Regions from separate parts of the Homo sapiens genome. Here regions 2, 3, 4, 5, 6 and 7 are each linked to region 1. The links come from fine-mapping of genetic effects on gene expression. A gene starts in region 1. Each other region holds a variant in brackets. All regions are shown on one strand. Distances are from middle to middle.

What was found. PIP is the estimated chance that this variant, and not a neighbour inherited with it, causes the effect. A credible set is the group of variants that fine-mapping cannot tell apart.
Region 2: its variant is the best candidate, but not a certain one, in a credible set for the expression of NDRG3 in whole blood (TOPMed, PIP 0.88).
Region 3: its variant is the best candidate, but not a certain one, in a credible set for the expression of NDRG3 in prostate (GTEx, PIP 0.64).
Region 4: its variant is the best candidate, but not a certain one, in a credible set for the expression of NDRG3 in whole blood (TOPMed, PIP 0.62).
Region 5: its variant is the best candidate, but not a certain one, in a credible set for the expression of NDRG3 in lymphoblastoid cells (GEUVADIS, PIP 0.81).
Region 6: its variant is the best candidate, but not a certain one, in a credible set for the expression of NDRG3 in whole blood (TOPMed, PIP 0.65).
Region 7: its variant is the best candidate, but not a certain one, in a credible set for the expression of NDRG3 in platelets (CEDAR, PIP 0.88).

The regions. Positions count from the first base shown.
Region 1 is chr20:36,744,175-36,748,612 of GRCh38, reverse strand. NDRG3 (NDRG family member 3) reads left to right here and starts at 2,523. Exons shown (of 16, transcript NM_032013.4): 1 at 2,523-2,568. RefSeq lists enhancers at 2,270-2,369, 2,094-3,060 and silencers at 2,480-2,679, 2,710-2,899.
Region 2 is chr20:36,408,800-36,413,237 of GRCh38, reverse strand. The region is part of intron 2 of DLGAP4 (DLG associated protein 4); the gene reads right to left. Among named protein-coding and RNA genes, the nearest start is that of DLGAP4, 100 kb to the right of the region's middle. The variant A/C (reference allele first, on the strand shown) is at 2,500.
Region 3 is chr20:36,716,267-36,720,704 of GRCh38, reverse strand. All of the region lies in intron 2 of NDRG3 (NDRG family member 3), which reads left to right. Among named protein-coding and RNA genes, the nearest start is that of NDRG3, 28 kb to the left of the region's middle. The variant C/A (reference allele first, on the strand shown) is at 1,742.
Region 4 is chr20:36,806,862-36,811,299 of GRCh38, reverse strand. It overlaps MTCL2 (microtubule crosslinking factor 2), which reads left to right. Exons shown (of 15, transcript NM_080627.4): 7 at 1,193-1,318; 8 at 2,557-2,787. Among named protein-coding and RNA genes, the nearest start is that of DSN1, 35 kb to the right of the region's middle. The variant T/C (reference allele first, on the strand shown) is at 1,980.
Region 5 is chr20:36,535,521-36,539,958 of GRCh38, reverse strand. The region is part of intron 2 of DLGAP4-AS1 (DLGAP4 antisense RNA 1); the gene reads left to right. Among named protein-coding and RNA genes, the nearest start is that of MYL9, 3.8 kb to the left of the region's middle. The variant G/T (reference allele first, on the strand shown) is at 2,776.
Region 6 is chr20:36,577,283-36,581,720 of GRCh38, reverse strand. It overlaps TGIF2 (TGFB induced factor homeobox 2), which reads right to left. Exons shown (of 3, transcript NM_021809.7): 2 at 2,755-2,980. The coding sequence starts at 2,946. It overlaps TGIF2-RAB5IF (TGIF2-RAB5IF readthrough), which reads right to left. Exons shown (of 5, transcript NM_001199535.2): 2 at 2,755-2,980. The coding sequence starts at 2,946. Among named protein-coding and RNA genes, the nearest start is that of TGIF2-RAB5IF, 5.0 kb to the right of the region's middle. The variant G/A (reference allele first, on the strand shown) is at 2,350.
Region 7 is chr20:36,688,277-36,692,714 of GRCh38, reverse strand. It overlaps NDRG3 (NDRG family member 3), which reads left to right. Exons shown (of 16, transcript NM_032013.4): 4 at 3,931-4,036. Among named protein-coding and RNA genes, the nearest start is that of SLA2, 44 kb to the right of the region's middle. The variant C/T (reference allele first, on the strand shown) is at 1,817.

The DNA.
Region 1 (4,438 bases):
CTATTTGGAATACCAAATGGAGAAATCAACTGGTCTGTCAAATAACACAGGTGGAGAACTGGGTGGAGAAATCGAGACTGGAAATAACATTTGAGAGTTGCTGATGTCTAGTTCTTGATGACTTGAGAATGAATGATATAGTCCACAGTAGAGCAAGAAGGGAAAGTTTGGATGGTCTCATGGAAATCCAACATTTAAGAATCAGAGCAGAGCGGGACACAGTGGCTCATGCCTATAATCCCAGAACTTTGGGAGGCCTAGGCAGGAGGATTGCTTGAGTCCAAGAGTTCTAGACCAGCCTGAGCAACATGGTGAGACCCTCGTCTATATCTATCTCTATCTGTATCTCAAGAATCAGAGAAATGCTCTTAATTGCCTACTCTTTCATAAACAAAGTAGTACAATGGAGAGAGTTGGAGTGAATTTTCCTTTTTCTTTTTTTTTTTTGAGACGGAGTCTCGCTCTGTTGCCCAAGCTGGAGTGCAGCAGCGCAATCTCGGCTCACTGCAAGCTCTGCCTCCCGGGTTCACACCATTCTCCTGCCTCAGCCTCCCGAGTAGCTGGGATTACAGGCACCCGCCACTACGCCCAGCTAATTTTTGTATTTTTAGTAGAGACGGGGTTTCACCTTGTTAGCCAGGATGGTCTCGATTTCCTGACCTCATGATCTGCCCGCCTCAGCCTCCCAAAGTTCTGGGATTACAGGCGTGAGCCACTGCGCCCGGCCATGAATTTTCATTTTATCCTCAATTTCCTCATCTGTAAAATGGGGACAGATTATCTCTCTAAAGATGATTATACCCTCCCCCTTTTTATTTATTACATTGTATTGCATTTTTTGCTTATAAGGATTTCTTCAAACTCAAGAAGTATGTTTTGTGTCTTCAACAGTAAAATACGATAGAACAAAGAAAAATAATACTTACTGAGCTCTAAGCATTTTACATGCATATTATCATTCAGTCTTTGCCACAACCTTGTAACTTCTATTTCTGGGTGTGTGACATAGATGAGGAATTCGGGCATGGAGAGGTGTGGAGAGACTTAATTGTCTAACCAAGGACATAGGGATAAATAGTGGATGGTGAACTAGAACTAATTTGAATTCAGTAAATGTTAACGAACATAAACCATAAAATAAATGGCTGTGCTCAATTAATGTTAGTTTTCCTTCCAACTAAATTCAGTTCAAGAATTGTGCTTGATGAATAACAATATTATTGCTGCCCTCTGAGATGTTTGGTAATATTCATTTGTTCAGTTTGCCTTAATTAAAAGAATATGCTTTTAGTGGCCGGGCGTGGTGGCTCACACCTGTAATCCCAGCACTTTGGGACGCAGAAGCAGGCGGATTGCTTGAGGTCAGGAGTTTGAGACCAGCTTGGCCAACATGGTGAAACCCCATCTCTACTAAAAAAAAAAAAATACAAAAATTACCCAGGCATGGTGGCGCCCGCCTCTAGTCCCAGCTACTTGGGAGGCTGAGGGACTTGGGAACCTGAGCCGAGATGGCGACACTGGCTCGGGTTAAAAGGGCGTGGTGGCTCACACACCTGTAATCCCAGCACTTTGGGAGGCCGAGGCGGGCAGATGACGAGGTCAAGAGATCGAGACCATCCTGGCCAACACGGTGAAAACCCGTCTCTACTAATAATAGAAAAATTAGCCAGGCCCGGTGGCACACGCCTACAGTGCCAGCTACTCGGGAGGCTGAGGCAGGAGAATCGCTTGAACCCAGGAGGCAGAGGTTGCAGTGAGCCGAGATCGCGCTAGTGCACTCCAGCCTGGCGACAGAGTGAGACTCCGTCTCAAAAAACAAAACAAAACAAAACAAAAAAACTTTTAGTCAGTGGTACTTAATGGTAAAGAAATAATAGATAATAAATAGAGGAAGAGTGTGTCCTGTACATTTTGGTGTTAAATTGTTGGGTCATTAAGTTTAATATCTGCAATCATTCTGGGAAAAAAAATTCCATCTCTAATGTTGCATTCAAGAAAGTAGATGATTTGGCTGACGGTTGTAATAGGGGTGATACAATGGAGGACTGGTAATTCGGAGCCCTGAGTCTTGGACTCTAGTTCTTAAATTACTATGTTCATTCACCAAAAATTTACTAAGCTCTTTCCACGTGCCGAGCACTGTGCTAGGCGCCCTGTGACCTTGGGTATGGCTCTAGGTCACCTTAAAAGGAGGATGCCATACCCTGCAAGAGCTCTTAGGGGCTTCATAAGGATGCGACTCAGGGAACTGAGGGAAGCGCTCCAGACGCAGAGCTCAATGGCCCTGCCGCCCAGCGCCTCCAAAATCTGAGATTCTTCTCTGAGGAAACTCCGCAGCAAGAAAAACTACATCAAAGATGGCGCCGCCGGCCTCTCCTGGCTCAGCCACCATCTTCTCGGTAGTTCCCGAGGTGGACGGGCACAGCACTCATGCGCCGCCCTGGCGTCCTCGGCGCGCCTGCGCGGACCGCAGCACCTCCCCCGCCCCTCTCGCCGCCGCCGCCGCCGCCGCCGCCGCCGCCGCCGCCGCCGCTGCTGCTGCACTGACGGCGGGTGCCCGCGCCTCAGGTGAGTGAGCGCCTCCGCCCGGCCCGCGGGGGGCGCGCGGCGCCGCATTCGGGGGCGTCGCTCCTTTGCCCTGCTCCTTCCCCGCATCATCTCCGCGGCACGGCGAGGCCCTGGTGGCCCGTGCTGCTTGCCTCCCCCGTGCCCCCGGGGCCCTCTGCCCCGCCCCGCCCGCCCGCCGGACCCAGGTCAGCCCGGCTTTCCTCGGCCGCTCCCCGCGCCCAGCCCGCCGGCGACAGCGTGTGGGTAGCAAGAGAGCCTCCCTCCGGGCTCAACACCCTGGGTCACAGGGACGCCCCCCGCAGGCGCGAACCCTTCTCTCGCTCTGGCTCTGCAGGCGGCAGAGCTTGGTGGGCCTTGGGGTTGCTCATCCATCTACCTCGCCCGCTCCAAGAGCCCAGATGCTTGGAAGAGGGGCCGTGAGCAGCCCTTGCACCCGTCCGGCCCCAGAGCAGCAGAGGGCATCCTCTAACGGGACCCTACGACTACCCTACCGGGGAGAGGCTTCTTAGCCCCACTTAACAGCCGAGGAAACTGAGGCACGGAAAGGTGAAGTGCCATGCCCAAGGTCACGCAGCTGACAAGTGGCAGGGTCAGCTCTCAACTCAGGGTCTCGGGCTCTCAGGCCAGTGCGGTTGGAATTTGATCTCGTACCTTTGAAAAAATTTTGAAATCACTTGTCATCTCTGAAGTTGCTCTCGAACGTCGTAAAAGTAGGCTGCACAAAAAAGATTTTCTTGTTGTCGGAGTACAATTGAGGTGTTACTGTAATAATAATAGTGTTATTAATATAAGAGCTAACGTTCTTCCACCGCTCGCTGTGTGCCAGGGATCTTGCTAAGCATTTTATTAAGATAACCTCGCATAACCACCTCTGCACTTCCCAATCCAAATGCTTCCCCCTTCCTTGTCATGAAGCCCTTTTTTTCTTCCTGCAGAGCTGGCCTCCCTATCACAGGTAGACTAGGAGCCCCGTGGATTAGGAAGCAGGGAAGCTTTCCTTTGGTGGCTTACTGACAGAACAAGAGTGATCCTTGCCTGCTGGCATCCAGATCACCCCCGCCGCGCCCCCCCCCCCCCTTACCCTGGCCCTCAGGGGATATTATTAGCCTTCCTTTCCTGCCAAGAGAGCAGGACTGGGCTGACTGGGCTAGCTGGGCGGGCTGGACTTGGAGGTGACAGAGCAGATTTGGCTAGCACTCACCTCATTCCGGGGCTTTCTGTCCGAGGCTTTCTGCCTTTGCCCCAAGGTTGGGCTTGAACATTTCAGTATTTAAGATAAAGCAAGAAGAGAAAGAGAACATTGATAGAGTGGTGCTGAATTTAAGAAGCCTCCCATGATTTAAAGTTCCAAATGAACAGCTATAAAAATATGTGAATGTTTCTCCCCCAAAATAACTAGCTCAAACTGTCGTTTTTCTCCCTTAGCAAATCCTCCTCCACATTTCAAAGGCTCCACTAAATCACCACCTTCTCTGTGAAGCCTTCCCTGCTTGATTTTCCCAATTAGAATTACACGTTCACAAAACAGGGTCTTAGCCTCAGTCTTACCCTGCGGACTTCTAGCCCCTTGAGGGCATGGTCCATCTTTGCAGCTCCAGATGCCTGGCTCACAGTAGATCCTTGGTAAGGACTCAGTTAATTTCCACCCCCCCTTTTCATTACTCAAAGCGTGGTGTTCTTCTGGTGCCCTTCTGTTCCTCCTTCCTGCCCTTCAGTTTCTCTTTGCTTGTCTCTTCCTTCAGATTAAACTTGTCATCACCATTTACCACTCAAAGGCCTCCATCCACCCTGTTGTTTTTGAAAACTTGCAGATAAGAGTCTTGCATCAAAAAGCCTGTTTATGGACCGGGCGCTGCGGCTCACGCCTGTA
Region 2 (4,438 bases), 340 kb after region 1:
GGGAGCCCGAGGTGGGTGGATCATCTGAGGTGGGGAGTTCGAGACCATCCTGGCCAACATGGTGAAACTGTCTCTACTAAAAATACAAAAAATAGCCAGGTGTGGTGGCACACGCCTGTAACCCCAGCTACTCAGAAGGCTGAGGCACAAGAATCGCTTAAACCCAGGAGGCGGAGGTTGCAGTGAGCCAAGATCGCAACACTGTACTCCAGCCTGGGTGACAGAGTGAGACTCTGTTCCAAAAAAAAAAAAAAAAAAGAAAAGAGTTCTGGAATAAACAGTGGTGATGGCTGTACAACACTGTGAATATACTTCATGCCACTGAATTGTAACTCTAAAATGGTTTAAATGGCCAATTTTATATGTATTCTACCTCAGTTTTAAAAGGCGTTTCACCTGGAGGATGTATCTGTAAGCTCCAGTATGAGTGTACACAGAGAGCACCCCATAAGGTCTCTAGTAGGTGCTCAATAAAGAGGTGCTGCGGTTGTTACATGAACTCCCAAAAGTCTTGTGAATCAAGACCTTTTCAGAGCTTACTGATCAGATGCTTCCTACATACACGTAAGCACTTTGTTTGGATGATCTTTTTGAATCCTCCAATCAGCCCTATGAAGGAGGTCTCATTGTTGGTCCCGTTCTATAGAAAGAGAACAGAGGCATAGAGAGAAATGATTTGTACAAGGTCACACAGGTGTCAGAGCTGGGATTTGAACCCAGGCAATTTGGCTCCAGAGCCCATGCCACTAATGAGCTTCCTGTGCTGCTTCTCAGCTCTCAGGAGACAATGTCCAGTTGGCCACCACCTCACAGAACCCTGAGCCTGGGCCATGCTCAGGGGACACAGCCTCTAACTGTGGGCTCACCAAAACCTTCGTCTGACAGGCTGGGAGATGCCTCTTAGGGGAGGACTGTGCAAAGGCTGTCCATGCTGCCCTGCCCTCTAGCCTCAGAGCTCTGACTGCAGGGCAGGCGGATTCTGGAGGCCACCTGCCTCGCCCTGTTTCATTCCGGCCCCCACTGGGGAACCATCCTGGAAGGTCATGCTGGCAAACAGCAGAACAAAATGGTCAGAATGCAGCAATTGCCAGCACATTTAATTCAATTCTTCCAACATTTATGGAGCCTGCTCTGTGACTCAGATGGCCTCAGCCCTTAAAGAGCTTGTGGACAAGTGGAGGGAGGCAGAAATACACACAGCACTTGGAGAACACATAAAAATAAATCCTGGAGTGTCGAAGCCAGGATGTGCAGCCCAGTGAAGACAGAGATTAATACTCACAGGGGCACCAGGAAGGGTCCCCAGAGGAGACGGTATTTCAGCCAGATCTCTGAGGACAAGTAAGATTTCCACAGACAAAGGTACAGGGAAGAGCGTTTCATAAAAAGGGATAAGTAGAGACAAAATCATGGCCAAAGGCGAGGGATTCAGGGAGTGCTGGGGGACAGCAGATTGTCCATGTGGTGGGCATGGGCTTTGAGGGAGACAGGGAAGCGAATGCCTGGGCTCAGATCCTGGAGGGCTTGATGCCCCCTGCCCCTCTAGGAACTCTGGATTTAAACTGTAGGCCATCAGCCATCAAAATAGAGGAGACCCCAAAGGCCATGGGTGCCAGCAATTCCGCTTCTAGGAATTACCAGCGGCCTTGCCTTATGCACGTGGGAAATGATGGGTGTGTGGGGCCTTTCCTGACATAATATTTGTATTAGCAAAGGGCTGAAAACATCCCAAAAGGCTGTCCATGAGGAGACCGGGTAAAAGATCACCCAGCACCCCATGGACTGCTATGCAGCTGTCAAAAAGAATAAGGTGGCACTGAGTGTACTGATGTGGAAAGCTCTCCAAAGGTACTGTAAAGTGAACACAGCAAGGGGCAGAACGGGGTCAGGGCATCTGTCTGATTTGGGTTCTCCGAGAAGCAGACCCTCAGACAAGAATTTGAATTGAAGGCCAGGCGCGGTGGCCCACGTCTATAATCCTGCACTTTGGGAGGCTGAGGTGGGCGGATCACCTGAGGTCACGAGTTTGAGACCAGCCTGGCCAACATAGTGAAACCCCATTTCTACTAAAAATACAAAAATTAGCTGGGTGCGATGGCGCATGCCTGTAGTCCCAGCTACTTGGAGGATGAGGCAGGAGAATTGCTTGAACCCAGGAGGCGGAGGTTGCAGTGAGCTGAGATCATCCCACTGCATTCCAGCCTGGGCAACAGAACAAGACTCTGTCTCAAAAAACAAAACAAAACAAAACAAAACAAAAAAGAATTTGAATCTATTTGGGAGGTGATCCCAGGAAGTACAGTGTGGGGATGGGGACACAAGGAGAGCCAATGAAGGCTGCACAACCTCGCTGTGGCACCCAGGCTTAACCCCGCTGGGAACTCTGCTGATATGGTTTGGATGTTTGTCCCCTGCAAATCTCATGTTGGAATGGGATCCCCTGTGTTGGAGGTGGGGTTTGGTGGGAGGTGTTTGGATCATGGGGGCACGTCCCTCAAG[A/C]ATGGCTTAGCACCATTCCCATAGTGATGAGTGAATTCTCACTCTGGTAGTTCACCAGGTTGTTTAAAAGGGTGTGGCACCTCCCCTATCCCCCACACTCCCTCTCTTGCCATATGACACTGCCTGCTTTCCCTTCACCTTCAGCCATGATTGGAAGCTTCCTGAGGCCCTCATCAGAAGCAGATGCTGGAGCTATGCTTGTATAGCTTGCAGAACTGTAAGCCAATTAAAGCTCTTTTCTTTATACATTACTCAGCCTCAGATATTTCTTTATAGTGATGCAAAATTGGATTATCACATCTACACTTCAGGTAGAACACATATCTCAGAGTTATCCCATGGAAGGGCGAGGGAGTTGGGGTCCGTATTCTCCACTTCCTTCTGCAATGGCTGAGGGCTGCCCCTGGGGAAATGAACACCCCAGCACTTCCACCCTCCCAGTGCAGGCTGAAAGAAAGCCCTCAGCTGGAGAAATGCAGGTTTTTCCAGAAGGAAGTGGCTGGCATAAACCAAACTGAGCTTGAGGTGGTAGAGGCAGGGCACTGACAGCATCTGCTACAGTATGCAGCTACCAATCCTCTAAAAGAGGGGTCCAAGAATTTTATTCGTATTTGCCTATCAGTGGAAGGGTACCCAATAAACTAGGAACAGGAACAAGGTGGATGGAAGAAAGAGTAGGAGGAGTACTTTTTTTTTTTTTTTTTTGAGACGGAGTCTAACTCTGTCGCCCAGGCTGGAGTGCAGTGGCGTGATCTCGGCTCACTGCAAGCTCCGCCTCCCGGGTTCATGCCATTCTCCTGCCTCAGCCTCCCGAGTAGCTGGGACTATAGGCGCCCGCCACCATACCCGGCTAATTTTTTTGTATTTTTAGTAGAGACGGGGTTTCACCGTGTTAGCCAGGATGGTCTCGATCTCCTGACCTCGTGATCCGCCCACCTTGGCCTCCCAAAGTGCTGGGATTACAGGCTTGAGCCACTGCGCCCGGCCAGGAGGAGGGCTTTTTATTATGTTTCTTTTTTTTTTTTTGAGACAGTCTTGCTCTGTTGCCCAGGCTGGAGTGCAGTGGTGTGATCTTGGCTCACTGCAACCTCTGTCTCCTGGGTTCAAGTGATTCTCCTGCCTCAGCCTCCCTAGTAGCTGGGACTACAGGTGCATGCCACCATGCCTGGCTAATTTTTGTATTTTTTGTAGAGATGGGGTTTTGCCAGGCTGGTCTCAAACTCCTGACCTTGGGTGATCTGCCCGCCTCAGCCTCCCATAGGATTACAGGTATGAGACACTGCACACAGCCTATGTTTCTTTAGAGTTAAAAAAAAAAAAAAAAGAGTTAAAAAAAAAAAGTCTTAAAAAAATTTTTTTTATTTTACTTTAAGTTCTGGGATACATGAAAAAAATAAGTCTTTTAGGTTGTGCACGGTGGCTCACAGCTGTCATCCCAGCACTTTGGGAGGCTGAGGCCAGGAGTTGAAGACCAAGAGTTCGAGGCCAGCCTGACCAACATGGCAAAACTCCGCCTCTACTAAGAATACAAAAAAATTAGCTGGGCATGGCTGCACATGCCTGTAATCCCAGCTATTTGGAAGACTGAGGCATGAGAATCGCTTGAACCCGGGAGGTGGAGGTTGCAGTGAGCCAAGATGGCGCCACCACACTCCAGCCTGGGTGACAGAGCGAGACTCTGTCTCAAAAAAAAAAAAAAAAAAAGCCTTTTATTTGGCAATAGTTTTAGATTATTCTAGGTTGCAGATAGTATAGAGACTTCTTGTATAACCCTCACCTGGTTTCCTCTAATGTTAACATTTTACATAACAATGGTACATTTGTTGAAATTAACATTGGTACATTACTATTAACTAAACTCCAGACTTTATTTGGATTTCACCATTTCCATTAACGTCCTTTTTCTGTTTCAGGATCCAGTCGAGGATACCGCATTGCA
Region 3 (4,438 bases), 28 kb after region 1:
AAGGAAAATTTACCATCCATGGCTGGTGATGTGCGTAGGCTGCAGTGTTCTCCCTGAAGTTTGCCAAGTCTATGATGTGGTCTTTCTGTCAATATGACATCAGGGAGGACTGGATGTCAGTAATATACCACATTTTTATGTTAGTGTCAGAGAACTACACAAGGAGCAGATGAGACCACAGTTGATGACCACTAGACACTGGTGTGATATGATTTACCAAAAGAAAGGTTTTGGCCAGGTGCAGTGGCTTATGCCTGTAATCCCAGCACTTTGGGAGGCCAAGGCTGACGGATCACTTGAGGTCAGGAGTTTGAGATCAGCCTCGCCAACATGGTGAAATTCCATCTCTACTAAAAATACAAAAATTAGCTGGGCGTGGTGGTGCAGGCCTGTAGTCCCAGCTACTCAGGAGGCTGAGGCAGGAGAATCACTTGAACCCGGAAGGCAGAGGATGCAGTGAGCCGAGATCATGCCACTGCACTCCAGCCTGGGCGACAGAGCAAAACTCTGGCTCAAAAAAAAGAAAAGAAGTTTTGTTTTCTCTCTTGTTCCTTATTGTTCGGTAAATGTGCCTGAAATTCCTTCTTTTTTTTTTTTTGAGACGGAGTCTCACTCTGTCACCCAGGCTGGAGTGCAGTGGTACAATCTCGGCTCACTGCAAGCTCCGCCTCCCGGTTTCAAGTGATTCTTCTGCCTCAGCCTCCGGAGTGGCTGGGATTACAGGCGTGCACCTGGCTAATTTTTGTATTTTTAGTAGAGACAGGGTTTCACCATGTTGGTCAGGCTGGTCTCGAACTCCTGACCTTGTGATCTACCTGCCTTGGCCTCCTAAAGTGCTGGGATTACAGGCATGAGCCACCATGCCCAGCTGCTTGAAATTCCTTCTTTTCCACTCTATTCTTTTGGTGTATTGTCATTGTCCCCTCTTGAAATACTCTTGTAGCTTTGTGTGAGTGAGGCCATGCCATCCTTTCCTGAGGGAGTGTTGACGGAGTGTGAGGATAAAGATGGATGGGCGGAGGGGCGGGGAGGGGGGGTGTGCGGGTGACACCAGGGGATGATCTGTTGCTTATTACTTTTTATCTGCCCAAGGCAAGGCCCTTCACCTGCAGCCTCTGGAGCTGCTGACTTATTTTGTGCTTACTAATTTGCTTTTGAATCCTGCCACCCCTATTTTCATCCCTGTGACCTCTCCATTCCCACTCCCACCCCTTCTTTTATCTTTCACCAGACTTCTCTCTCCCTTGGCAAGCTGCAGGCTTTTTTTTTTTTTTTTTTTGAAACGGAGTCTTGCTCTGTCACCAGGCTCGAGTGCAGTGGCGTGATCTTGGCTCACTGCAACCTCTGCCTCCCGGGTTCAAGCGATTCTCCTGCTTCAGCCTCCCAAGTAGCTGGGACTACAGGTGTGCAACACCATGCCCAGCTAATTTTTGTATTTTGACTAGAGATGGGGTTTCACCATGTTGGCCAGGATGGTCTCGATCTCTTGACCTCTTGATCCACCCGCCTCGGCCTCCAAAAGTGCTGGGATTACAGGCGTGAACTTCCACGCCCGGCCACTGCACGCTTTTTTAACCTCCATTTGGTTTCTCCTGCTGCATCCCCTCATATTTCCAGAAAACTCTCTCCTTTAAGTACCATTTGTGTATGTGTGTATGTGAAGGGCTGTGCCAAAAATGTTGTGCCTAGGAGAGGAGGAAGGAAATAAAATCTGAGCCAGGCACACACCTATAACCTGGCT[C/A]ACACCTATAATCCAAGCACTTTGGGAGGCTGATGCTGGAGGATCACCTGAAGCCAGAAGTTCAAGACCAGCCTGGGCAACAAAGGGAGATCCTGTCTACCAAAAAATTAAAAAAATGATCCAGGTGTGGTGGCAGATGCCTGTAGTCCCAGCTACTTGGGAGGCTGAGCTGCGAGGATCACTTGAGCCTGGGAGGTTGAGGCTGCAGTGAGCTGTGATTGTGCCACTGCACTCCAGCCTGGGCAACAGAGTGAGACCCTGTCTCAGAAAATAAATAAATAGAGAAAGAGGCTCTCTTTCTCTCTCCCTTCCCCTGCCATATGGGGACACAGCAAGAAGGCAGCTGTCCACAAACCAGGAAGAGATTAATCATGAGAAACTGAACCCTTCTAGAACCTTAATCTTGAACTTTGCAGCCTTCAGAACTGTGAGAAAATAAATTTCTGTTGTTTTAAGCCATCAAGTCTATGTTATTTTGTTATGACAGCCCGAGTAGACTAAGACACAAAGCAGTGTCTCACTTCCTAACATCTATCTGCTCCTCTTTGATAGGCCTATGCTGTTCCTACCCACTTCCCACATTCCACCTTACTCCTTTCTCTCCCTGAGACGTAAGTGCTCCTGTGCCATCACTATTCATGAGAACTCTCTTGGCTCTCGCCAAGCAGGTAGATAGGCAAGAGGCCCTCTTTAGATCATGGCACCTCCAAACAAAGACTTCCACCCCGTTAGCCTCCCTCTCCCCCTCCCCAGTATGTGAATGCTTCTGTCTTTGCGCAGCAAGTGGATGGTTTTGTGTATATAGTAAAAGGTATAATGATAATAATGCCTCTCATCCATTACTTCATTTGAACCTCCCAATAGCTTGATGAGGAAGGAGCACAGATAAATGTATTCCCACATTGCCAGTGAGTAAACGAAGGCTAGGAAAGGTGAAGTAGCTTACTCCTATTGAGTATCAAAGAATGCCTGCTGTATGGCAGGATTTCTCACTGTCGATGTTTTGGGTTGGATAATTGTTTGTTGTGGAACACTGCTCTGTGCATTGTAGAATGTTTAGCAGCATCTTTGGCCTCTACCCACTAGATGCTAATAGCACTCCCCAGTGGTGACAACCAAAAATGTCTCCAGACATTGCCAGATGTCCCTGGGAGGCAAAATTTCCTTGGTTAAGAACCACTGGTATAGAGGAAAAGCCTTCAGATTTGCATAGAAGTAGATGGCTTGAGGGTTTTGTTGTTGTTGTTTTTGCCTGTCCTGCTATGATTTATTATCTCTTATGTGCCAAGTGCTTTACATACATTCTCTCTCTCAGAATATCCCTTTGAGATAGATAGTATTATTCCTACTTCACAGATTAAAAATCCGAATGAAAGGCTGGTTTGCCCAGTAAAGAAGTGGCAAAGCCAGACAGAAACCAAAGTCTTTCCTACTCTTAAAACCTGAGCTGTTTCCACTGTGTTAATCCTATAGATGTTTTGGCATCACCTTTGTGGCTTACCCTGTCTCTTTAAGGAGAAGCCTAAAAATGTGTAGTATTTCACCTTATCCTTCTGTCCATTATTCTCATAAATATACTGAAGACATTGCTGCATCCTCCAGGCTTCAGGAAGCTAAAGGAAGACTAGAACCAACCTTTTACCGTGAAATTTGTCCTGAGATGACTTGTAAGGAGGCATTCTCAATATAGCTTTGAGCAAGGCTTATGTTGTCTCTTGTCATTTGTTGGTACTTTTCCCATTTTATTTTAGTATGCCTGTAATTTTGTCTACGGCTCAGAATTGTCAAGAAGTGGATAATTTTGTCATACTTGTTTTGGCTCTAGTGATGAAAAGAAGCAACCACCAGTACTTTGTTTTGCGGGACAGAAATTGCATGGGCATATGAAATGATTTTTAAAATAGCATTTAACTATTTTCAGAGCACTTTCACCAATAATATCTTATTTTAATCTTCCAGTCTCTTGTAAATAGTTGAAGATATTTTAACTCTATTTTACAGATGACACTGAGAGGTTATCTGATTTGTTCAGAGCTAGTGTCTGTTAAGTTGGTGAAGCCAGGCTAGAACCTACATCTTTTGACTTTGACCTGGACCTGGGGGTCTAGGGTTCTTCCCACCATCTACTGCCTCTTGTACCTGGTTGTTCCAGGCTCCTCACCCAAAAGACCTTGTAATAAACAGGAGAGTAGACTGTTTTGCCTCATTTTCCCTGCCTTCCTCTACCTACTAGGTTCAGATACTACTGAACCCTGTGAAAGCCAAAGGTGAGGCTTGAGAAAACAAGTAGAAGGCCACACTTGGCTTCTGAAGAATTGAGGAAATAGCAGAAAGGGGAATAAATGTTTAGTAGAGAGAACAGAAAAAAGTTATATACTTTGTTTTGGTTGTTACAGTAGAAAGTGAGGTAAATCTTTTTTTTTTTTTTTTTGAGATGGAGTCTCGCTCTGTTGCCCAGGCTGGAGTGCAGTGGCATGATCTCGGCTCACTGCAACCTCTGCCTCCCAGGTTCAAGTGATTCTTCTGCCTCAGCCTCCCAAGTAGCTGGGATTATAGGTACCTGCCACCATGTTCAGCTAGTTTTTGTATTTTTAGTAGAGATGGGGTTTTGCCATGTTGGCCAGGCTGGTCTTGAACTCCTGACTTCAAGTGATCCGTCCGCCTCGGCCTCCCAAAGTGCTGGGATTACAGGCATGA
Region 4 (4,438 bases), 63 kb before region 1:
CTGCACACATTCAATTATTTGTTTCATTCAGCCACTCTTTATTGAGTAGTGACAATTGCCCAGTGCTGTTGACCACTGAGTTCAGGGAGGAAACCAGGGACAGCAGACAGTATGTAGCCCTGCAAAAATTTTTAATGCAAAACAGATATAGAAGATATACCTCAAGTCACTGTGCCTTCCACTGCCAAATCATCATATTATTGACCATATAATGAATGTTTACTTTCTCACAGAGGGACATTTGCCATGCCTAGGAAGGTTTTATGTAGGAGTTCTGGGGCCAGGCACGGTGACTCACACCTGTAATTTCAGCACTTTGGGAGGCCCAGGTGGGCAGATTGCTTAAGCCTAGGAGTTCGAGATGAGCCTGGGCAACATGGCAAAATCCTGTCTCTATCAAAAATATACAAAAATTAGCCAGGCGTGGTGGCGGGTGCCTGTAATCCCAGTTAATTGAGAGGCTGAGGCAGGATAATCGCTTGAACCTGGGAGGCAGAGGTTGCAGTGAGCCAAGATCACGCTCAAAGCTGGCGAAACTCCGTTGAAAGAGAGAGAGAGAGAGAGAGAGAGAGAGAGAGAGAGGGAGAGAGAGAAGGAGGGGAGGGTGGGTGAAGGTTGGAGGTCAGAAGGTCTTCACATAGTTCCCACTGGTTACATTTATTGTGTGTGTCCATGTCCTTTGTATGTTTTTTTATGGAGGCCTATAGCGTTTTTGGTTTTGTTTTTCTACTTTCTGTTGTAGTATAACATAATAACATACATACAATAAAGGACACTGTCCTTAAGGGTACCACTGAATGGATTGTTACATATGTATAGATCCATTAAGCATCTTTTAAGTCCCATCATTTAGTATCTAAGTTGTTTCTAAAATATTGCAATTATAAACAATGAAACAATGAACATCTTTGTGAATCAAACTTAGTTTTCCCAGTACCTTATTAAGATAAATTTCAGAGAGAAAAGAACAAGTTCCAATGGTAACAAAAGCCAGATTTGATATGTACTGTTTCATTTAATCATCATGACGACCCTCAGAGGTGGGGACAGTCATTCTGCCTGATTTGTATTTGGACAGCTTGGGTCCAACATCCCATCGTTCCCCTACCACTGTCATCCTTAGATCACAATTTCTATCCACTTCTTCCTCTCTCTCCCTCCTCATTATCTGTGTCCCCTGTCTGTACCACAGATCAAGGAGCTGCAGCTGGTGCTGGCTGAGGCCCACGACAGCCTCCGGGGCTTGCAAGAGCAGCTCTCCCAGGAGCGGCAGCTACGAAAGGAGGAGGCCGACAATTTCAACCAGAAAATGGTCCAGGTGCGTGGTGCCCAGCGCTTTCCAGGCAGCTATTCCTACAGCCTCTCTGAGCTGGAAGCAGAGGCCTTGAGGATCTATGGGCCCTCTGAAGTCAAGAAAGTCAGGGGAGGCTGGGTGTGGTGGCTCACGCCTGTAATCCCAGCACTTTGGGAGGCCAAGGCAGGCAGATCACTTGAGGCCAGGAGTTTGAGACCAGCCTGGCCAACATGGAAACCCCGCCTCTACTAAAAATACAAAAATTAGCCAGGCGTGCACTAGCACGCCTGTAATCCCAGCTACTCAGGAGGCTGAGGCAAGAGAACCGCTTGAACCCAGGAGGCGGAGGTTACAGTGAGCCGAGATCATCCCACTGTATTCTAGCCTGGGTGACAGAGTGATATCTAAAAAAAAAAAAAAAAAAAAAGAATGAAAGAATGTCAAGGGAAACCTGAGTCTTCAGCCCCTGTGCCCTGCTGGGATGTTATTGTCCTTGCCATTGTGCATTAGTTGTGTAACAGGGCTGTCATTGGCGGCCTGTGGGACCTGGGGCCAGTCCTGTTTTCTCTCAGGACCTCAGTTTCCCATTTATGAAATGGTGCCCTCATCAGGCCTGGCTTCTAATCAAGATAATAGTTCTGGAATAACATTTGTTAAGCCCTTACTGTATGGTGGGCCTGTCCAA[T/C]GCACTTTCTACCCATTATGTCTTTTAATCCTTGTGCCCTCCCTTATCACCATTTTGCAGATGGGGAAACTGATGCCCAGAGAGCTGGAGTGCTCTGCCCAGGGTTGCACATCCAGAGTGTGGCAGGGCTGGGCCTCTAATCCAGGTCCCTCTGTTAGGCATGACACTGCATTGCTTCCTAGGGTGTTGCCTAGTCATCAGCTGTCCTCAACCCTGGCACGCCCTTTGCTCTCCATGCGTCACCCCTCCCTGCTATCATCGCTCACCCTCGCAGGTTCCTCATTGAACATGAGCATTCGTGTGAGACATTTGGTGCCCAGGAGGTGCTCAGTATATGATGTCATGGTTTTTTAGAGCCAGGGTCAAATCCCAGCTCCTTCAATGATGTGTCACTGTTTTTGCAGGAGCAGAGGGCAGTGCTCATCTGAATAGATTGCGCCACGTGTGGTGGGATCCCCGGCAGGGATCACTCACAGGCACCACCCAGACTTTCCTCCCTGCCCCTGTCCAGGGGCCCAGAAAGGGGTGGGGGAGAGGACAGGGCCCTGGGGTTGCTCAAGCTCTTGTCCCCCGGCAGCTGAAGGAGGACCAGCAGAGGGCGCTCCTGAGGCGGGAGTTTGAGCTGCAGAGTCTGAGCCTCCAGCGGAGGCTGGAGCAGAAATTCTGGAGCCAGGAGAAGAACATGCTGGTGCAGGAGTCCCAGCAATTCAAGCACAACTTCCTGCTGCTCTTCATGAAGCTCAGGTGGTTCCTCAAGCGCTGGCGGCAGGGCAAGGTTTTGCCCAGCGAAGGGGATGACTTCCTCGAGGTAAGATTGGGCCAGGGACTGGGACTGGGAGTGTGGGCTGGGGAGAGAGGGACAGGGAAGGGACGCCCAGCTGGTATTGACACAACTCCTAGGCTCACATACCTGCCATCAGCATGCAGGCTTCCTTCCTGCATTCGTTGCTTTTTTTTTTTTTTTTCCGAGATGGAGTCTCACTCCAGCCCAGGCTAGAGTGCAGTGGTGCAATCTCAGCCTGCTGCAATCTCCATCTCCCGGGTTCAAGCAATTCTCCTGCCTCAGCCTCCCGAGTAGCTGGGATTACAGGCACATGCCACCATGCCCAGCTAATTTTTGTATTTTAAGTAAAGACAGGGTTTCTTGGCCGGGTGCGGTGGCTCACACCTGTAATCCCAGCACTTTGGGAGGCCGAGGCGGGTGGATCACGAGGTCAGGAGATCGAGACCATCCTGGCTAACATGGTGAAACCCCGTCTCTACTAAAAATACAAAAAATTAGCCAGGTGTGGTGGCGGGTGCCTGTAGTCCCAGCTACTCGGGAGGCTGAGGCGGGAGAATGGCGTGAACCCAGGAGGCGGAGCTTGCAGTGAGCCTAGATTGTGCCACTGCACTCCAGAGTGGGAGAGAGAGCAAGACTCCTTCTCAAAAAAAAAAAAAAAAAAAAAAAAAAAAGACAGGGTTTCTCCATGTTGGCCAGGCTGATCTCTCAAACTCCTGACCTCAAGTAATCCACCTGCCTTGGCCTCCCAAAGTGCTGGGATTACAGGCATGAGCCACCATGCCTGGCCAAAAGATATGTTTACTTAACAAGAGGGAGTAGGCTGGCTTAAAAACATTGGTGATAGTACAGGTGGTATTAGGATGTGGCAGGAAACGTGGGGGCGGAGCTCTGGGAATGTAAGAAGCTTAGAAAGGACCCACCTGACCCATTCATGCCCCAGTCTATGCAGGACCCTTTGCTGCTCAAAGCCCTTGCGTCCTGTCATCAGCACAGCAGCACACATCAACACATCAGGGAAGAGAAGGGGACTTACAAGGATGTCAGACCTTGGTCACACTCATCTTAGTTGACATTGTTCACTTTGGCCGTGTCCTTTTGGGTTCAGGTACCTCGAGTCTAGCCCAGGCTTGGCCCTCCTCTAGTCCAGGCTGCTCTCTGTAGTCCCCTGTCCAGATCCAGTAGGGAGCATTGGCATGCCTCAAGTTGCCACTTACGCCATCAGGGGTACTCCAGAGGAGCCCAGATGCCCCAGGAGCCAGGCAAGACAGTTAGACCTGAGTGTGTAGCAAGACCCTGCATCACCCTATCTCAGTGGGGCTCATCATTCTCGCAGGCCACCAGCTCCTCCCCAGGGCCTCATGGGAGAGTCACTACCGCCATTCCATAGGCCCACACCCTGCTGCCCTGGCCCTGCAGTGCCTGACACAGGGCCGCCCCTGGGAGCATTCGCCTCGGTCCTCCTGTCCGAAGCTGTCTCTTCTGTGACGTTTGGAAACATAGGAGCCCTCTCACCTGTTTGGAAGTCTCACAGGCCTCTGGATGAAGCCCAGTTTAAGGGAATGACCTGCAGGCCACACAGTCTATATTTTAAGTCAGTTTGTCTCAGACGAACCCTCCACATTTGGTGAAAACCTTTCTAGCCATTTCCATATCCTAGAGTAAAAGAGAGAGAAAC
Region 5 (4,438 bases), 210 kb after region 1:
GCCAAAGTAAGATCATTTGTCATCACATTTCTTCAGTGTCCCAGTTTTACATTTTATTTTTTGATTGTGGTAAAATATACATAACATAAAATTACCATTTTCAGCGTGTTTTTTTTTTTTTTTTTTTTTTTGAGATGGAGTCTCCCTCTGTCGCCCAGGCTGGAGTGCAGTGGCGCCATCTCAGCTGACTGCAAGCTCCGCCTCCCAGGTTCATGCCATTTTCAGCATTTTTAAGTGTATAGTTTGGTGGCATTAAGTATATTCACTTTGTTTTGCAACCATCACCACCATCCATCTCCAGAGCACTTTCATCTTCCTCAGCCGAAACTCCCTGCCAGTTAAACACTAACTCCACCTTGCCCCCTTCTCCCCGCCCCTGGCAGTCATCATTCATCTTTCTGTTTTCTGTGAGTTTATCTACTTATTGGGGCCTCATGTAAGTGGAATCATATAGCATTCGACCTTTTGTCACTGGCTTATTTCACCCAGCATAATGTCCTCAAGCCCCAGGTTCATCCATGTTTAGTGTATATCAGAATTTCTTTTTGGGGGTGGGGGGTTGAGATAGGGTCTCACTCTGTCGCCGTGGGTGGCATGCAGTGGCACAATTATAGCTCACTGCAGCCTTGACCTCCTGGGCTCAAGCAATCCCCCTGCTTTGACCCCCTCAAGTAGCTAGGGCTGCAAGCATGCACCAGCACACCCGGCTAAGTTTTCTTTTTTTTTTTTGAAACGGAGTCTCGCTCTGTCACCCAGGCTGGAGTCCAGTGGCGCGATCTCGGCTCACTGCAAGCTCTGCCTCCCGGGTTCATGCCATTCTCCTGCCTCAGCCTTCCGAGTAGCTGGGACTACAGGCGCCCGCCACCATGCCCGGCTAATTTTTTTTTTTTGTATGTTTAGTAGAGACGGGGTTTCACCGTGTTAGTCAGGATGGTCTCGATCTCCTGACCTCATTATCTGCCCGCCTCAGCCTCCCAAAGTGCTGGGATTACAGATGTGAGCCACTGCGCCCGGCCCACACCTGGCTAAGTTTTCTACTTTTGTAGAAACAGGGTCTCCCTGTGTTGCCCAGCCTGGTCTCAAACTTCTAGCCTCAAGCAGTCGTCCTGCCTGGACCTCCCAAAGTGCTGGGATTATAGGCCTGAGCCACTGTGCTTGGCCCCGGCTAATTTTTTAAAAAATTCTTTTTGTAGAAGTGGGATTTTGCCATGTTGCCCAGGCTCTCGTCCTTTTTAAGGCTGAATAATATTCCATTGTTTGCATAGTTTGTTTATCTACTCATCATGGATGGACACTTGGGTTGCTTCCACTTTTTGGCTATTCTGAATAATGCTTCAGTGAACATGGGTCTCTTCAAGTTCCTGCTATTGTTTTTTTAACCTGACATTGTGAACATATAAGTCTCTGTTTTCAATTCTTTTGGGTATGTGCCCAGAAATGGAATTGCTGGATCAAATGGTTATTCTATTTTTAACATTCCGAGGAACTGCAATAACTGTTTTCTGTAGTGGCTGTACCATTTTAAATTCCCATCAACAGTGTACAAGGGGCCTGGTGTGGTTGCTCTTGCCTGTAATCCTAGCACTTTGGGAGGCCTAGACAGGTGGATCACTTGATGCCAGGAATTTGAGACAAGCCTGGCCAGCATGGTGAAATCTTGTTCTCTACGAAAAATACAAAAATTAGCCAGGTGTGGTTGTACACGCCTGTAATCCCAACTACTCGGGAGGCTGAGGCAGGAGACTCACTTGAATCCGGGAGGCTGAGGTTACAGTGAGCCGAGATCGCGCCGCTGCACTCCAGCCTGGTGGACAGAGTGAGACTCGGTCTCAAAAAAAAAAAAAAAAAATTCTTGGCCCATTTAAAAGAGCAGGGTTGTTTTTTTTTTGATTCTAGGCGTTTTAAAAATATGTTTTGGATATTAATCCCTTGATATGATTTGTAAATATTTTTCTTATTCTACAGGTTTTCTGTATTTTAAAGAAAAGCTTAAATTGTTATCTTTTATAAACCATAAAATTCACCTATGAAATGTACAATTCATTGGTTTTAGTGTATCTACAAAGCTATGTAATTATCGGCACTACTATGTAATTCCATAACATTTTAGTAAGTAATCCCCCAAAGAAACCCTGTACCTGTCAGCAGTCATTTCCCATTCTCCTCTCATCCCAGCCCCTGGAGACTATGGATCTACTTTCCCTCTCTATCAGTTTGTTTACTGTAGAAATTTGTTTTTGTGTTTTGAGATGGAGTTTCACCCTGTCACCCAGACGGGAGTGCAGTGGGGCTCACTGCAACCTCTGCCTCTTGAATTCAAGTGATTATCCTGCCTCAGCCTCCCTAGTAGCTGGGATTACAGGCACCTGCTACCACCCCAGCTAATTTTTGTATTTTTAGTAGAGATGGGGTTTTACCATGTTGTCTAGGCCGGTCTCGAAATCCTGACCTCAAGTGATTCACCTGCCTCAGCCTCCCAGAGTGCTGGGATTACAGGTGTGAGCCACACGCCTAGCCAGCTTGTTTACTCTAGAAACTTCAAACAAATGCAGTCATACAATGTCTGGCTTCTTTCGCTTAGCATAATATTTTCAGGGATCATCCATATTGCAGAATGTCCCGGGACCTCAGTCTTTTTCATTGCCAAGTAGTATTCTGTTGTATGGCTATATGCTACATTTTGTTTTTGCATTTGTCAGCTGATAGACATTTGGGTTGTTTCTACTTTTTGTCCATTATGAATATGGTGCCGTGAACATTAATCTGCAGGTTTAC[G/T]TGTGGATATACGTTTTCACTTTCTCAGGTATATAAGAGTGGAACCGCTGGGTCATATGGTAACGCCTCTATGTTTAACCTTTTAAGGAACTTCCAAACAATTTTGCACAATGTTGTCCCATTTTGAATTCCCACCGGCAGTGGATGGTTCCAGTTTCTCTACTTCTTCACTAATACTTGTCTGTCTGTGTTTGTATTAGAGCCAGGGTCTCACTATGTTACCCCAGGCTGGACTTGAACTCCTGGGCTTAGCAGTCCTTCCACCTCAGCCTCCCGAGTAGCTGGGACTACAGCTACCTGGCCCTGCTTGTCTTTTTAATTCTAGTCATGCTATTAGGTGTGAAGTGGCATCTCATTGTGGTTTTGATTTGCATTTATCTAGTGACTGAAGATGTTGAGCATTTTTCACATGCTTATTATTGGACATTTGTGTATCTTCTTCAGAGAATTATCTATTTAGGCTGGCCGCGGTGGTGGCTCACGCCTGTAATCCCAGCACTTTGGGAGGCCAAGGCAGGCAGATCACCCGAGGTCAGGAGTTTGAGACCAGCCTGGCAAAAATGGCGAAACTCCGTCTCTACTAAAAATACAAAAATTAGCTGGGGGTGGTGGTGGGTGCCTGTAGTCTCAGCTACTCGGGAGGCTGAAGCACAAGAATCACTTGAACTCGGAAGGTGGAGTTTGCAGTGAGCTGAGGTCATGCCCCTGCACTCCAGCCTGGGCAACAGAGAGTGAGACTCTGTCTCAAAAAAAAAAAAAGAAAAAAAAAAAAAAGTGTCTATTTAGATCCTTTTACCTATTTAAAAATTTGTCTTTTGGTTTTGAGCTGTAGAAGTTCTTTACATATTCCGGCTATTGCACCCTTATCAGATAAATGAGTTGCAAATATTTTCTCTTATTATGTGAGTTATCCTTTCACTTTCTTGATAAACATGTGTTCTTTGAAACACAAGTTTATTTTTTATTTTTTATTTTTTTTTTGTTTTTTGAGATGGAGTTTTGCTTTGTCGCTCAGGCTAGAAGTGCAGTGGTGCGATCTCGGCTCACTGCAATCTCTGACCCCTGGGTTCAAGTGATTCTCCTGCGTCAGCCTCCCGAGTAGCTGGGATTACAGGCACCCACCACCACACCTGGCTAATTTTTGTATTTTTAGTAGAGACAAGGTTTCACTATCTTGGTCAGGCTGGTCTTGAACTCCTGACCTCATGATCCACTGGCCTCGGCCTCCCAAAGTGCTGGGATTACAGGCATGAGCCACCGCGCCCGGCCGAAGCACAAGTGTTTTTAACTTTTAAGTTTAGTTTATCTGTGTTTTCTTTGGTTGCTTGTGCTTTGGTGTCATACCCAAGAAGTCATTGCCTGATCCAAGGTTATGAATGTTTACACTTGTGTTTTCTTTTCTTTTCTTTTTTTTTTTTTTTTTTTTGAGATGGAGTCTCGCTCTGTCGCCCAGGCTGGAGTGCAGTGGTGTGATCTGGGCTCACTGCAAGCTCCGCCTCCCAGGTTCACGCCATTGTCCTGCCTCAGCCTTCCCAGTAGCTGGGACTACAGGTGCCCACCACCACGTCCGGCTAATTTTTTGTATTTTTAATAGAGACGGGGTTTCACCGTGTTAGCCAGGATGGTCTCGATCTCCTGACCTCATGATCCACCCACCTTGGCC
Region 6 (4,438 bases), 170 kb after region 1:
GGAGGCAGAGGTTGCAGTGAGCTGACATCGCACCACTGCACTTCCAGCCTGGGTGACAGAGCAAGACTCCATCACACACACACACACAGATAAATAAATAAAAGGAGTTAGTATATTTCTCAGGTTTGAGAAAGTGTCCCTGACAAAAAGTAATTCCAATAGAGTGTGACAAGTGGTTTGACAGGACAGGGTGAGGTGCACTGGGAATATAAGCAGCAGCCCCAAACCTAGGCTGTAGATCAGTTTGGACTCTATCCTGAGGGCAGTAGAGTCCAGGAGTGCCTGGCCCTATCAGATTTGGGCTTTTGTGTTCAAAATAATGGATTAAATGAACAAGGCTGAAGGCTGAAGGCTGAAGGCAGGGAGACCCGCAAAGAGGCTGTCCAGACACTCCTCGAGGGTAAGAATGTGTCTGGAGCCTCTCTCAGATCCCAACTCTGCACAGCTCCATGCTGAGGAGGTACACTGTGAGATGCCACGCACTGCTGGGCACCCAGGATCAGCCAAAGACTTTGTGCCTTAGGCAGAGATGAAGCTGAAAACAGTAGAAACACCCACTGTATGCCAAACACTGACCAGTAGGTGTTTTTTTTGAGACCGAGTCTTGTTCTTGTTGCCCAGGCTGGAGTGCAATGCCACCATCTCGGCTCACCGCAACCTCCGCCTCCCAGGTTCAAGCAATTCTCCTGCCTCAGCCTCCCGAGTAGCTTGGATTACAGGCATGCACCACCACACCTGGCAATTTTTTTTGTATTTTTAGTAGAGATGGGGTTTCTCCATGTTGGCCAGGCTGGTCTTGAACTCCCGACCTCAGGTGATCCACCCGCCTTGGCCTCCCAAAGTGCTGGGATTACAAGTGTGAGCCACCGTGCCTGGCCTTGTTTTTTTTTTTTTTTTTTTTTTTTTTGAGACAATGTCTCACTCCTTCGCCCAGTCTGGAGTGCAGTGGTGCGATCACAGCTCACTGCAGCCTCCACCTCCAGGGCTCAAGTAATCCTTCCTCCCACTTCAGCCCCCCAAGTAGCTGAGACTACAGGTATGTACCACCATGCCCAGCTAATTTTTTTGTTTTGTACAGATGGGGTCTCCCTATGTTGCCCAGGCTGGTCTCAAACTCCTGGGCGCATGCGATCCTCCTACCTTGGTCTCCTAAAGTGCTGGGATTACAGGTGTGAGCCACTGTGAAGGGCCCCAGTGAGCCTTGAATTCTTCTTCTCGTCCCTTTCTCCCTACACTCATGAAAGTGCTACAATCACCTCCCTTTTTTCAGATGAGGGAATAATGAGGCTCACAGAGAAGGCAGTGACCTGGCCAAGGTCCAGGTTTCCTCTTGTGGAGAAGATGGAATCTGAGTCAGGATCTGTAACTTTAGAGCCTTTCTCATACAGAGACTTGGATTAACCATTGCCCAGAGTATAAAGTCAGGTGACAGGAGTTCTGAGGGCTAAAATACTTACCATGTCTCTACATGGAAGAAAGATAGGAGCTAGGAAGACGTGGGAGGTTCAGAGTGGGATAAGGGAAGGAGGGAGAGACAGCATCAAAGGTTGGAGTAATAAGCTATGAAAGGACAGAGGGGGAAAGAGAAACAGGAGAGCTTGTGGGAGAGGTTTGACTGGCTCAGGAAGGGAGCAGTGGGGGCCAGCAGGGCAGGGCTGGGCCTCTTGTATTAGGCTAAGGGCCTACTGTGTGTCTCCAGGAAGGGGAGAGGCAAACTGGAGGCAAAGCAATGGTGGTTCAGGGTCCCCCGCCTCTGCTCCAGGAAAGCAGAACAAAGACACCTGCGGGTCAGCAATAGGCGCGATTCAAAGGGGACAGTACTTTGCACTCTGACAAAAAGGGGATAAGGCTATCTTTTGAGTGTGTTCATGTGCATGGTTTGCAAAGCACTTTCACATCCAGTTCTGAATCTATTCGTCACAACAGATCCACCAGGCAGGGGAAGACTCTGTGTACCCCCTGCCCCTTTACAGATAAGGAAATCAAGACGTGAGGCAGAACTGGATTATGAACACAGAACCTCTGACTTCTGCCCTTTCCTGGACTGTGATCCTGCCCCATCTCTTAACCACACTGCAAATTACAGCTGCCCCTTTCAACCAAGTCGCCGTCCAATACTGCGTTGGGGCTGGGGGCTGAATCCTAGATGCTCGATGCCTTCTCATCTTCCCTTGGCCTCCAAAGTTAAGGATGACACCTAGACTTTGACAACATTAAATTCCTTGCCTCTTCAGAACTATCCAAAGTCTGGGCCAGGCGTGGTGGCTCACGCCTGTAATCCCAGCACTTTGGGAGGCTGAGGCGGGTGAATCACAAGGTCAGGAGTTCGAGACCAGCCTGGCCAACATG[G/A]TGAAACCCTGTCTCTACTAAAAATACAAAAAATTAGCTGGGCGTGGTGGCGGGCGCCTGTAATCCCAGCTAGTCGGGAGGCTGAGGGAGGAGAATCACTCGAACCCGGGAGGCGGAGGTTGCAGTGAGCCGAGATCGCATCACTGCACTCCAGCCCGGGTGACAGTGCAAGACTCCGTCTCAAAAAAAAAGGACTATCTAAAGTCTGAAATTGACTGCAGCGACCCTATTTCATTGTCTTCCCTTGAGACAGGGAGAGTGGGTGTTCTCCCCTAACCCAAGAAGAAACCGAAGCCCAGACAGTGAAAGTGAGTGGCCCAAGACCACAGTGACTCAGTGACACAGCTGGAATAGGACTAGAACCCAGGTCCTCCTGCCACCCCCTTATCCAGATCCCCTCCTTACTTGCAGCACTGACAGGTTGGTCTGTCCAGAAAGGCTCAGCTTCTCCTGCTCTGAGGGGTAGGCGTTGTAGCGGTGCAAGTACAGCCAGTCCCGGAGGATCTTCACCGACTCCTTGGGCAGGTTCCCCCTGCGCTTCCTTTTGCCCGCCAGGGAGAGGAGGCCTTCGTCCTCACCTAGATCACTGTCCGACATGGTGCCTAGGGGCTAGGCTGGACCTTGGGTAAACCTGGGACAAGGGACACAGGGGATGGGAACATCATTAGCACGTACCGCCTTTTCCTAGTCTCCAAACATGCTCAGCATTACTTGAGCCTGGGACACCAGAAATGGGGTAGTTGCAATTCAGAATCTCAGGCCGTAACACAGACCGAGCAAGCTAGAAGGGATGAGTCCAAAGTTCCTCCACTTCATGGAACAGGTAGGTGACTACCGAATGGCAGCTCATTCACAAGCAGGACTCAGGCTGGAAACAATTACAGCTTCTACTGAGGTCTACTGTTTTCCATGTTCGGTACTAAGCATTTGGTTTTTTCTTTTCTTTTTTTTTTTTTTTTGAGAGAGGCTCTCACTCTGTAGCCCATGCTAGAGTGCAGTGGCGCCATCTTGGCTCACTTCAACTTCTGTCTCCTGGGTTCAAGTGATTCTCCCACCTCAGCCTCTGAGTAGCTGGGATTACAGGCATGCACCACCATGCCTGGCTGACTTTCTGTATTTTTTGGTAGACACAGGGTTTCACCATATTGGCCAGGCTGGTCTTAACTGCTGGCCTCAAGAGATCTAGCAGCCTCAGCCTCCCAAAGTGCTGGGATTGCAAGCGTGAGCCACCATGCCTGGCCTGTACTGAGCATTTTACATGTTATCTCATTTAATCATTACAATTCCCCAATAAGGGAGAAGCTATTATTATCATCATTTTATAGATGAGGTAACAGAGATCAAGAAAGCTGCCCAAGGCCTGCGCAGTGGCTCACACACACACACACAAAATACAAAAATAAGCCAGGTGTCATGCTGTGCATTTGTAAGCCCACCTACTTGTGGGACTGAGGCAGAATTGCTTGAGCCCAGGAGGTCAAGGCTGTAGTGAACTGTGTTTGTGCCACTGCACTTCAGCCTGGGTGACAACAAAATAAAAAAGGTCTCAAAAAACAAAGGCCGGGCACAGTGGCTCATGCCTGTAATCCTAGCACTTTGGGAGGCCGAGGCAGGCAGATCACGAGGTCAAGAGATTGAGACCATCCTGGCCAACAGGGTGAAACCCTGTTTCTACTAAAAATACAAAAATTAGCTGGGCATGGTGGCGCGTGCCTGTAGTCCCAGCTACTCGGGAGGCTGAGGCAGAATTGCTTGAACCTGGGAGGTGGACGTTGCAGTGAGCCGAAATCGTGCCACCGCACTCCAGCCTAGTGACACAGCGAGACTCCATCTCAAAAAAAAAAAAACAAAAACAAACAAAGGCCGGACACGGTGGCTCACGCTCGTAATCCCAGCACTTTGGGAGGCCGAGGTGGGTGGCTCACCTGAGGTCAGGAGTTCGAGACCAGCCTGGCCAACATGGCAAAACCCCGTCTCTACTAAAAATACCAAAAAAAAAAAAAAATTAGCTAGGTGTGGTGGCACACACCTGTAATCCCAGCTACTTGGGAGGCTGAGGCAGGAGAACTGCTTGAACCTAGAAGGCAGA
Region 7 (4,438 bases), 56 kb after region 1:
AGAATTTACAAATACATACAGCTAGCACCAGAAATCTAAGGCCCCAGCCTTAGATTATATCTATATGTAAAATTGCTGTAGGGTAAAATTTCTGTAGGGTAGACACCTCTTAACTTTACTAGAAATTACCAAAGTATTCTCCTGGTAGTTGTTCCAGTTTATATGCCTTACCAACAGTATATGTTGATTCTTGTGGGGCACGGTGGCTCACGCCTGTAATCCCAGCACTTTGGGAGGCCGAGGCAGGTGGATCACTTGAGGTCAGGAGTTCGAGACCAGCCCGGACAACATGGTGAAACCCCATCTCTACTAAAAATACAAAAATTAGTGGGGCTTGGTGGTGCACACCTGTAGTCCCAGCTACTTGGGAGACTGAGGCAGGAGAATTGCTTGAACCTGGGAAGTGAAGGTTGCAGTGAGCTGAGATCGTGCCACTGCACTCCAGCCTGGGCGGGCGATAGAGTAAGACTCCGTCTCAAAAACAAAACAAAACGTAAAAAACAGTATATGTTGGTTCTTAGTTATTTCTCTGCATCCTGGTCACCACTTAGCATTATCTGACTTTACATTTTTGCCATTTTGGTATGTATGAAATAGTATTTTATTGAATTTAATTTCCATTTTCCTGTCTGTTTAGTGAAGGTAATGTCTTCTTACTTTTCTATCGTAGCACCCTAGTTGTTTCTTTTATAGCACCTATCACAAGCTATTATTACAGGTGGATTTGTTTCTGTGTTTATTGTGTGCCTCCCTATGTAGAACATAATCTCTGTGAAGACTGGGATCACATTTCTCAGGTTTACTGTTTTATCCCCACAACTCAGACCAGGGTCTGGCATGGAGTGGCATTCAATAAATAGATGTTTAATGAATGAACCAGGGTCGGGAAGTGAGTCCTTTAATAAGTCTGACATTACTGTAAGAGAAATACAGAAATAGGAAGTTATTTCTTTATATTCCTCCTATCCAAACCTTATGCTTTATTTGTTATATTTTTTTGAGACAGAGTCTCACTCTGTCACCCAGGCTGGAGTGCAGTGGTGTCACAATTTCGGCTCACTGTAACCTCTGCCTCCCGGGTTCAAGCAATTCTTCTGCCTCACCCTCCTAAGTAGCTGGGATTACAGGCACCTGCCATCATGCCTGGCTAATTTTTATATTTTTGTAGAGACAGAGTTTCACTGTGCTAGACAGGCTAGTCTTGAACTCCTGACCTCAGATGATCTGCCTGCCTCGGCCTCCCAAAGTGCTGGGATTACAGGCATGAGCCACCGCGCCTGGCCTATACTTTATTTCATAGCCAGTTTCACAGTACCTGATTCTAGTCTTCATTTCTTATGTTCATTTTTGAAGGCTTTGAATAGACTTGACTAGGAGGTAGTAGTAATAGAAAATAACAGAAATATTGAGTCACACATGGTTTGATTTGGTAGGGATGGCTATCGGCTCCAGCCTAGGGCCTGTAATTTGAGATATACTGATGTCCAATTAGCTTAAGATTGTCTTCTGGTGCCCACATCAGAGAAGAAACCAAAGCTCTTATGAGGTTCATTATTAGATAGGAAATTAAACTGGAAGCCCTTTGCCTTTTTTGGGATTCTCATTGACAGAGTTAATCTTGTCTTACCTAATGTAAGACTTTGTAAGATAGATACAGGCTTCATCAACAGAAATTCGCTAGGATAGGAATGGTAATTTTTTTATTTTTGAGAAATATAAAACTTGAGCACGACTAGAATAAATCTCAGTTAACTTTTCAGTAGTCCCTTTTTTTTCCACCCAACCACTCTTAGTGCGGCATCTACTCTCAGCAGCT[C/T]GGTGCATCTTTTGTCTGCTTTATTCAGTTCCTGAGCTTTGCTCGGTGCATCTTTTGTCTGCTCTATTCGGTTCCTGAGCTTTGCTCGGTGCATCTTTTGTCTGCTCTATTCGGTTCCTGAGCTTTGCTCGGTGCATCTTTTGTCTGCTCTATTCGGTTCCTGAGCTTTGCTCGGTGCATCTTTTGTCTGCTCTATTCGGTTCCTGAGCTTTGCTCGGTGCATCTTTTGTCTGCTCTATTCGGTTCCTGAGCTTTGCTCGGTGCATCTTTTGTCTGCTCTATTGGGTTCCTGAGCTTTGCTCGGTGCATCTTTTGTCTGCTCTGTTGGGTTCCTGAGCTTTGCTCGGTGCATCTTTTGTCTGCTCTATTGGGTTCCTGAGCTTTGCTCGGTGCATCTTTTGTCTGCTCTATTGGGTTCCTGAGCTTTGCTCGGTGCATCTTTTGTCTGCTCTATTGGGTTCCTCAGCTTTGCTCGGTGCATCTTTTGTCTGCTCTATTCGGTTCCTGAGCTTTGCTCGGTGCATCTTTTGTCTGCTCTATTGGGTTCCTGAGCTTTGCTCGGTGCATCTTTTGTCTGCTCTATTTGGTTCCTGAGCTTTGCTCGGTGCATCTTTTGTCTGCTCTATTTGGTTCCTGAGCTTTGCTCTGGCTACATCTTTAACTGATTGGCTTGGTTAAGATCTTTTAGGAGTAGAGGGTACAAACTCACCCAATATAGCTTAAACCAGAGGCAGTCCAGGGATGTCTTAGAACTTAGAAGTATACACAGCTAGCACCAGAAATTAGAGTAGTGGAAATGCCTACTAAAATCTCCCAAGTTGATTCCTCTTTTCAAGAGGAGAGCCAAGCTGAAGTTAGAATCTCTTAGTTCCAATTACAGGCTGGGCGCGGTGGCTCACGTCTGTAATCTCAGCACTTTGGGAGGCGGAGGTGGGTGGATCATGAGGTCAGGAGATCGAGACCATCCTGGCTAACACAGTGAAACCCCGTCTCTACTAAAAATACAAAAAATTAGCTGGGCGTGGTGGCAGGTGCCTGTAGTCCCAGCTACTTGGGAGGCTGAGCCAGGAGAATGGCGTGAACCCAGGAGGCGGAGCTTGCAGTGAGCCGAGATCGCGCCACTGCACTCCAGCCTGGGTGACGGAGCGAGACTCTGTCTCAAAAAAAAAAAAAAAAAAAAATCTCTTAGTTCCAAGGGAAAGGTGCTGACCCAGCCTGGGCCAGATGCCTCCCTGACTCCAGTAAGCTATGGCCGTAAGTTTATGTTCCACAAACATGGTAGCCAAGATCCACCCCTGTAACGTGTGGATGACACAGAAGGACAGCTCCCAGGAAAGAAGGGATCCTAGGCAGATACACCCATAGGTGTCTGGTGAAATTATCTACTGAAATTAATTATAAATTATCTGAACATGTGTTCAGAAGCTCCAAAACCTCTGATTTTTTACCCAGCAACTTCTTCATATCTTCCATTTCCTTTTTTCCCCACAAGTCTTACCTGGCTCCTTACCCAATTTGCTGATTTCCTTTCCATAGCCAATTGCAAATGTATTCTCAACAGATCCCTGGGCTCGTAAGTGAGCTTTGGAGATAACAAGGTGTGTTTTGCTCCCTATTTATTTTTCTGGAAGAATTGGAAAGTAGGAATATTATGTATACTCTAGCATCTCTCTGGTATGCATTTATTTTATTTTATTTTATTTTTTGAGACGAAGTCTTGCTCTGTCACCAGGCTAGAATGCAGTAGCACGATCTCAGCTCACTGTAATCTCTGCCTCCCAGGTTCAAGTGATTCTCCAGCCTTAGCCTCCTGAGTAGCTGGGATTATGTGCGTGTGCCACCATGCCTGGCTGATTTTTTATTTTTAGTAAAGACAGGGTTTCATCATGTTGGCCAGGCTGATCCTCAAAGTCCTGACCTCAAGTGATCCGACCACCTAGGCCTCCCAAAGTGCTGGGATTACAGGCGTGAACCACCACGCCCAGCCACATGTAATTTATTAATGTGTCCTGCCCCAGCTCGTGGGAAACGGTGGTAAAGCAGGTATTGTGAAACTTTGGCAACCTGGGAAGTTCATTCTGCTTTTTCTGAGAACTTACATTCTCTTGTTACAGGAACATGATATAGAAACAACTCATGGTGTGGTCCACGTCACTATAAGAGGCTTACCCAAAGGAAACAGACCAGTTATACTAACATATCATGACATTGGCCTCAACCGTATGTATTTTATTTTACACCTTCCCTTCTTATCATACTTGATCTTTGTATGTTAAAAACCAAACAACAACAATATTCTAATAGAGCAGAGGTTTCCCCCTCTCTGTGGTAACTTTCCCTCCTTGTTCCTACATTCGTTAATGGTATAAAGTTCCTGGGAAGTGTGCAGGGGAATGTATTCTGGGGATACTGGAATCACATCTCGCCTTCATGTCTGCTAAAGGATTGCAGATTATACAATGCACTGCTAAGAAAGTAGAACTGAAATCCATGTTTTCAAGCCTGTACTCTGTTTTTTTTTTTTAAATATGTTTCAGGTTAGAAAATTCAGAGTTGGAACTTAACTTTGTTGTGAGCTCTTCAATGAATTAGTAAGAATTCTTGCTAGAGCCTGTCACCAGT